Linked DNA regions of Homo sapiens: region 1 is reported to be linked to region 2. Evidence: microRNA targets listed by miRTarBase, many of them from high-throughput screens and not tested one by one. Region 2 holds a microRNA gene; the other region holds the end of a gene's coding sequence.
The links. Region 2 holds the annotated microRNA hsa-miR-4328 (CCAGUUUUCCCAGGAUU, at 1,343-1,359, opposite strand). A microRNA usually pairs through its seed, bases 2 to 8, with sites in the 3' UTR of a target mRNA and lowers its output. Matches are read on the target gene's strand: a 7mer-m8 pairs with bases 2 to 8, a 7mer-A1 pairs with bases 2 to 7 and ends in A, and an 8mer does both.

Region 1 (3,407 bases), not on the chromosome of region 2:
CAGGGGAGACAGATTTTGTAGAAGAGGTCAAGGTGAGGATGGCGCCTCAACAGAATCTTCAAAACCAAAAGGCAAGTTGCGGTACCCGCTGACCCTCCGCCATGCAGAGACTGCCGCGGACGCCGAAACACCCTCCTCCCCGTCAGGCTGGCTTGTCCCCGGGCATCTGAACGAGCCAACCTGACAGGATGGGTGCTCAGCGGAGGACACTCTCTGAGAAGCCTGAGATGATGGGGAAACCCACTCTCTAGGGCTGGCTTCCAGCGCAGCTGTTTGGAGAAAGAGCTACCCTGGAGAACCTTAGTCACTGCTACAGTGGTAGAGAAGACGGAGCACAGGAGTAGCTCCTCAGGGAGGAGGGACACAGACCACACCCCCAGCTCCTTGGTGACCTCCAAGGGAACCAGCTGGACGGCAGCAAATGGGCTTTTCCCCCGGCTTTTTCTCAGCTCGCTGTGAACCCGGCCCAGATGCATCCCATGCTTACTCATAGAGTAAAGCAAGCCAGGTATGAGGCAGTTACAAGCCAGCAGTTTTTTATGTGATTGATTCTATCTTCTCTGGAGATGCCCCAAGATTCTCTGGAAACAGTTAGGCCTCAGTATTTCCTAGCCAAGGAGCAAGCTTCCAGGAAATGAGCGAGTGAGCCTCCAATTGTATATGTAGACGTAAAAACAGCATGCATGCCCCTCCACCACCAAGCCTTTTTCATTTCCAAGCTTTTCTCTAATCACCAGGATCCAAACACCTCCAGCCCAGCTCCCATCCCCGCCCTCCTCCTCAGCCTTGGGCCCACCCACCTCTGTCTTCACAAAAGGTGCCCCGCTGGCCGGCACCACAGAAAACATCCAAGCCCAAGGTACTCATGGTTTGTGTGTAAAGGGTTTTTATTGGAGAGCCTGTGGCGCTGAAGTGCCACCAAGGATTTGGAAGGTCACTTTCAGCAGCCGCCATTTCTGCCAGGACCAGTGGCAAGCACCTGGCAGATGGAGCCCGGGTGTTTCTGCGTAAGGCAGAGGAATCCAGCTTTTCCATGAGATTCAGCTGCAGTTGTCGAAAACCCTGTGTGAGCCAGCAGTTCCAGTTCAAAGGTTGAGGGGGCGAACAGCTGCGAGGTGGCCAGGCTCCCGTGAGTCACCACTCAGGCCTGAGTACACCGTGGAGAGGAGAGATAAAGCAGCCACGGCTGTTCTGTTGCCAGTCCCACCCCTCTGGCAAACAGATGGGGGAAAACAGAGAAGGAAAGTCAACAAAGAAGGTGAAATGCAGGGAGCAGAGACTACACGCAGGCCCCCCGTGGCTGGCAATACCATGCGTGCTGGGCCGGCTGCGCCACCCTCACCCAGGGCTTCCCACGGGCTCTGCTCTTTCCTGCAGAGGCGAAACTGCCTTCCTGGCAGGCGGAGGCTGCCGAGCTCCCATGCCCCTTCCCACATATCCCAACTCTTCTCAGAAAACTGAAGAACCGAAGATGGAGGTGAGTCAGGAAAGGCTGGAGTTTTCATCCAAAAAAAAAAAGAGCAGGACAATAAACAGGCAAATACACAAACCCTGGAGCAAAGCCAGGAAAAAAGGGGGAGATAAAAAATAAAAAAATAAAAAACACCTTTCTAGAGAGAGCAAAATCCCAGGGTCCCGAAGGCACTGCTAATAGACTAATAGAAGCATCTTTGTTGCAGCCAATCACCTCTAGCCTGGGAACACCGCTAGTCAGGAGGCCTCAATCAACCTGAGAAGTCAGCCCAAGGCCCTGTCTCCAGAAGCCAGCAGCAGATCCCTGGGTCATGTCACAGGCAAGTCCTCACTTCACCAGCTCAGAGGTGAGCCACTCTCACCTGAACCTCTGCCTTCCGGCAGGGACCTCCTGGGTCCTGTGGGGTCTCCTGGGTCCAGGTGGGTTCCTAGTCCAGCCCCGTCTAGACTGACTTCAAATATAGTCCCCTGACAGTGTGATTTTTTCCAGCCAGCCAAATCACCGTTCATTTTTAAAATGGTTTTTAAAAATTACATTTCTAAGGCAAACAACGTAGAACTGTGACAGAGCAGAGGAACAACAAAAAAGCACAAAGAATGTTGCTAATCACAGGCTGCCTAGCACTTTCCTTTCCCTTCAGAGAAGGAGAAACTGTTTTATAGGTATCACACACGTGCACACGCACACACGTGCACACACACACACACACACACGCACAGTTTTTCCCTGATACTGGAAATTCTTTGTGAACTAGCCACGCTGATTTCTGCTGAACCTTTTTTTTTTTTAAAAAAAAAAAAAAAGGAAGAAAGAAAAGGAGCCACAGACGTGTCCAGGTCTGGAAGGGGCTGACCAGCTCTAAGCACATCCACCTTGAACTCTGACACAGGTAACGCCAAAATGAGGCCAGGACCTGACCAAGCCAAAAAAGCAGCAAAGGATCAGATGGGGTCCAATGTGTAGATCCAGTAGAGAAGAATGTCGGAAATTCTAAATACACAGTTGGACATCCTTCAGGCTTGTTTTAGATTCTTGATCCTCCTGATCTCTTTTACTATTGTCAACAATTGTCTTAAAAAAACTTCTTTAAAATCAACATGTTTCTACCCTTTGCTCCTTAGCAAGGCACAAAGCCTCTTACATGGGGAGTAGAAGTAGGGGGCACTTTAAAGGGATGCCCAAAGGGTGGCAGAAGCAACTCCATTGTGGTGACGTGGAAACGAGCTTGCCAGTGACAGTCTGAGCAGATGCCTGACACGCACGATGGAGCTGGGGTTTTATACATAACGTTCGTTTTGGTTTCAACACCTCCGACGCAAGAGGGCTTCCAGGTCCAGTCCTTCACACCCCAGGTTGCAGCTGACCAACTTTCCACAGGATGCCACCAGGCTGGGAAACAGGTTTTACCTAAAAGAAAGGGAAGGACAAGAGTAAGCCCCTTCTGGCAGAGCCTCGCACCCATTCTGACCCCTCCTGAACATCTCTATCCCTCACCCTCTCAGCCAGTGAAAAGGCCACAGTCCCCAGCCACAGGACCTTTGAGCGTGCTGTCTGGAAGGCGCAATCCACTCTTCCAGCAAACCCCCTCCCTCCCCACAGTTCCCAACTAAGGATCCCTCCCCCAGCTCCCCACACAGACTCCCTAGAACACAACCTCTTTCTCCTTATATCCCTCTCCTTGCCAGCACTTCCAGGGTGTTTACACTAGGGGTTGGAAAACTTCTTCTGTGACAGTCCAGAGAGGAAATATTGTAAACTCTGCAGATCCCACAATCACGGTGATAACTCCTCAACCCTGCTGTTGGGGTGGAACAGCAGCCACAGCAAGAAATGCTTGGCCATGGCTGTGTTCCAGTACAATGTTATTTATAGACACTGAAATTTGAATTGCATGTTACTTTCTCATGTCATAAAATAGTATTCTTCCTTTGGT
Region 2 (3,407 bases):
GAAAGAAAAGAAAAGAAAGAAAGAAAAGAAAAGAAAAAAGAAAAGAAAAGAAAAGAGGTAGAAAGTTAAAAGGATGGGAGGGAGAGAATGAGGGAGGGAAAAAGGGAGGGAGTGTGGAAGGAAGGAAAAAAAAGACAATGAACAAAATATATTTTAGAAAGGAGGAGAATGTGTGGCACATAGTGGGCATTGAATATATACATTTTTTATTATTATTATACTTTAAGTTTTAGGGTACATGTGCACAATGTGCAGGTTAGTTACATATGTATACATGTGCCATGCTGGTGCGCTGCACCCATTAACTCGTCATTTAGCATTAGGTATATCGCCTAATGCTATCCCTCCCCCCTCCCCCCACCCCACAACAGTCCCCAGAGTGTGATGTTCCCCTTTCTGTGTCCATGTGTTCTCATTGTTCAATTCCCACCTATGAGTGAGAATATGCGGTGTTTGGTTTTTTGTTCTTGTGATAGTTTACTGAGAATGATGATTTCCAATTTCATCCATGTCCCTACAAAGGACATGAACTCATCATGTTTTATGGCTGCACAGTATTCCATGGTGTATATGTGCCACATTTTCTTAATCCAGTCTATCATTGTTGGACGTTTGGGTTGAATCAATAGACAGTGTCAAAAGTGTTCAAAATTCAAAAACAAACAAATGAAAAAAACTGGGAGAGTGAGAGTAGATAAAATTTATTAGAGCCTTTGGAAAGATAAGTTGGAAAGAAGGCTGGAATGGTGTGGTAAGGGTAGAGTAGGGAAGATGGAAAAAGAAGCAGTTTGGAGGAAGTTAGGAAGGAAAGGAATGATGAGAGAGTAAAAATGATGCAAATTATGTGTTTTATATATTTGACTGGGAATAAAAGGTGATAAACTGATCAAGAATTTAGAATGTCAGGCAGAGATTTTTGTTACCCATTTGTTTGTTATAGACAAAGGGGTCCTGAGACTGAGGACATAAACCAAAAAAAAGGCCATGGAACAAAAGATGAAAGATACGAGAAAAGAAGGGGCAATGGCTTATAAGAATTTGTTACCTAAACAATTTATAGACATAGCAGTGCCTTAATCTAAAGCAATAAAACCCAATGGTGGAATTTCAGAAAGTATGATAACCAGTTTGAAAAAGTGGGATACATTTATACAGCCTCAGATTAGAAATCTACTTCTCCTCCTTAAACCAATTATATCAGAGGCAATTGTCCTGGTTTGATTTTCTTTTGAAAAGACTGCATTGACTTGAAATGTGTATGTGAGGGATGAACAGGGAGCAGGGAAATTTGCCTTTGGAAATTAAGTTCTTACTAAAATAGTTTTTATCTCTCGGAACAGTTAATCCTGGGAAAACTGGTTCTCAATGGTTCTCAGGACTCAACTGTTTTGGGGTTAATTCAGGAAATTCTAAATACCAGAGAGGCCAAATTATTGCTTCAACTTTTGGGAAGAGGTGCCATTCTTGAACTTGCTAGATGGTGAGCTAAAATGAGGAGGATGATCTGAAGTCTTTTTACATAGACTTCCAATGTCATGCTCTTATGGGCTTGCTCTGTCCAGTAAATGGCACAGATCTCCATCCTCAGCGACCTCAGAAGTGCCAATGAAGACTTATCAAAAGTATCACTTCCTGGGCCTGTGCATGTCTCAGATGCAGGTTCACTGTTGATCTTACCCATAGATATTAGTCAATGTCTGCATTAATGACCCTTCTGGGTCAACCTCAAGAGAGCCACAGAACTTGTTTTTCTTCTCTTCAATCCTGACCTGACCCCTCTATTAGCCTTACTTTAAGCCAGGAGAGCTCCTACTACAGAAAAAGGGGATGAGTCACTGAGGGCCAGGAACAAGACTAGATCTCTTTAGTGTCAAAGGAAGACATAACATGCCCTGTGAAGTCTATTGTTTTCTAAAAATCTTGTATCATCAGATAATATCTTGAAAGCTAACTTTCCTTTCATAGCAGAGAGAAACATTGAGAGTACCCAGGTATAAAATGCTTGAGGGGATGGAGACTCAATTTTTCATGACTTGAGTATTATGCATTACATGCCTGTATCAAAATATGTCTTGTATACCATAACTATATACAACTACTAAGTACCCACAAAAAATAAAAATAAAAATAAAATTGTAGCATGAATTGCTAAAAAAAAGAGGTTCTATAAGATCCTATACCAATTATATGCCGAAACTAACAGGGATATTGGGGTCCTCCATTTTATGTGGAGGTAAACTGATAGTAGATGGCTACTGTGATTTGCTTAAGGTCACAAAAGATCATAATCAGTGCAAATCATTTGACTAATACACTATCCAAGTAATACATTTCATTTTGCCTCTGGGGTTGCAGACAAGTTCCCTGCTGCAATGAAATCTGTGTGGGTATACATAAACTAATAAATACATTAATATATGATGTAATATAAAGTCACATAATAGTAAGTTTCATGAAGAAAGTAAAACAGGATAAGGAGATAGTTTGTGCAGAGTATGTATTTGCTTTCATTTTGGTTGTTCAGAAAAGTACTCTGAAGAGGTGACATTTTGAGTAGTGGACTGGATAATTTATCAGAGCCGTAGTCTTAAGGGAAAATGTTGCAGTCATAGACAAAGCAAGGGTAAAGGCCCCGGGATGGAAAGAGGATTAGTATTTGGTTTTTATTAACAATACTTAGTGACTTCTATAGGGTAGAGCACTCCAAATGTTTCAATTTAACTCAATGAAATTCAATTAACCAGTTAAGTAGAATTTAGTGCCGAATAAGTATTAAGAAATTATTTATTATTCAAAGGCCTAAAAACAGAACTACCATTCAACCCAACAATCCCATTACAGGGTATTTACCCAAAGGAATATAAATCATTCTATTATAAAGACATATACATGCATATGTTCATTATAGCACTATTCACAATAGCAAAGACATGGAATCAAGTAAATGCTCACCAATGATAGACTTGATAAAGAAAATATGGTACATATGCACCATGGAATACTATGCAGCCATAAAAAAGAATGAGATCATGTCTTTTGGAGGAACATGGATAGAGCTGCAGGCTGTTATCCTTAGCAAACTAATACAGGAACAGAAAGCCAAATACTACGTTCTCACTTATAAGTGGCAGCTAAAAGATGAGAACACATGGACACATAGAGGGAAACAACACACTCTGGGGCCTATCAGAGGGTGGAGGATGGGAGGAGGGAGAGGATCAGAAAAATTAGCTAATGGGTACTAGGCTTAATACCTGGGTGATGAAATAATCTGTACAACAAACCCCATAACACAAGTTTACATATATAACAAACCTGCAAACATACCCTTGAAATTAAAATAAAAGTTAAATTTTTAAGAAAGTAATTACTTGTATAAAACACTTGTGCTATGAATGTTTGACATA

Region 1: the mRNA of FAM174B is a reported target of hsa-miR-4328. Seed matches in the 3' UTR shown: 7mer-m8 at 2,191-2,197.

Annotation. Positions count from the first base shown.
Region 1 is chr15:92,616,579-92,619,985 of GRCh38, forward strand. FAM174B (family with sequence similarity 174 member B) reads right to left here. Exons shown (of 3, transcript NM_207446.3): 3 at 870-2,881. The coding sequence ends at 2,878. Among named protein-coding and RNA genes, the nearest start is that of FAM174B, 37 kb to the right of the region's middle.
Region 2 is chrX:78,899,862-78,903,268 of GRCh38, forward strand. MIR4328 (microRNA 4328) reads right to left here and starts at 1,388; the gene lies at 1,333-1,388.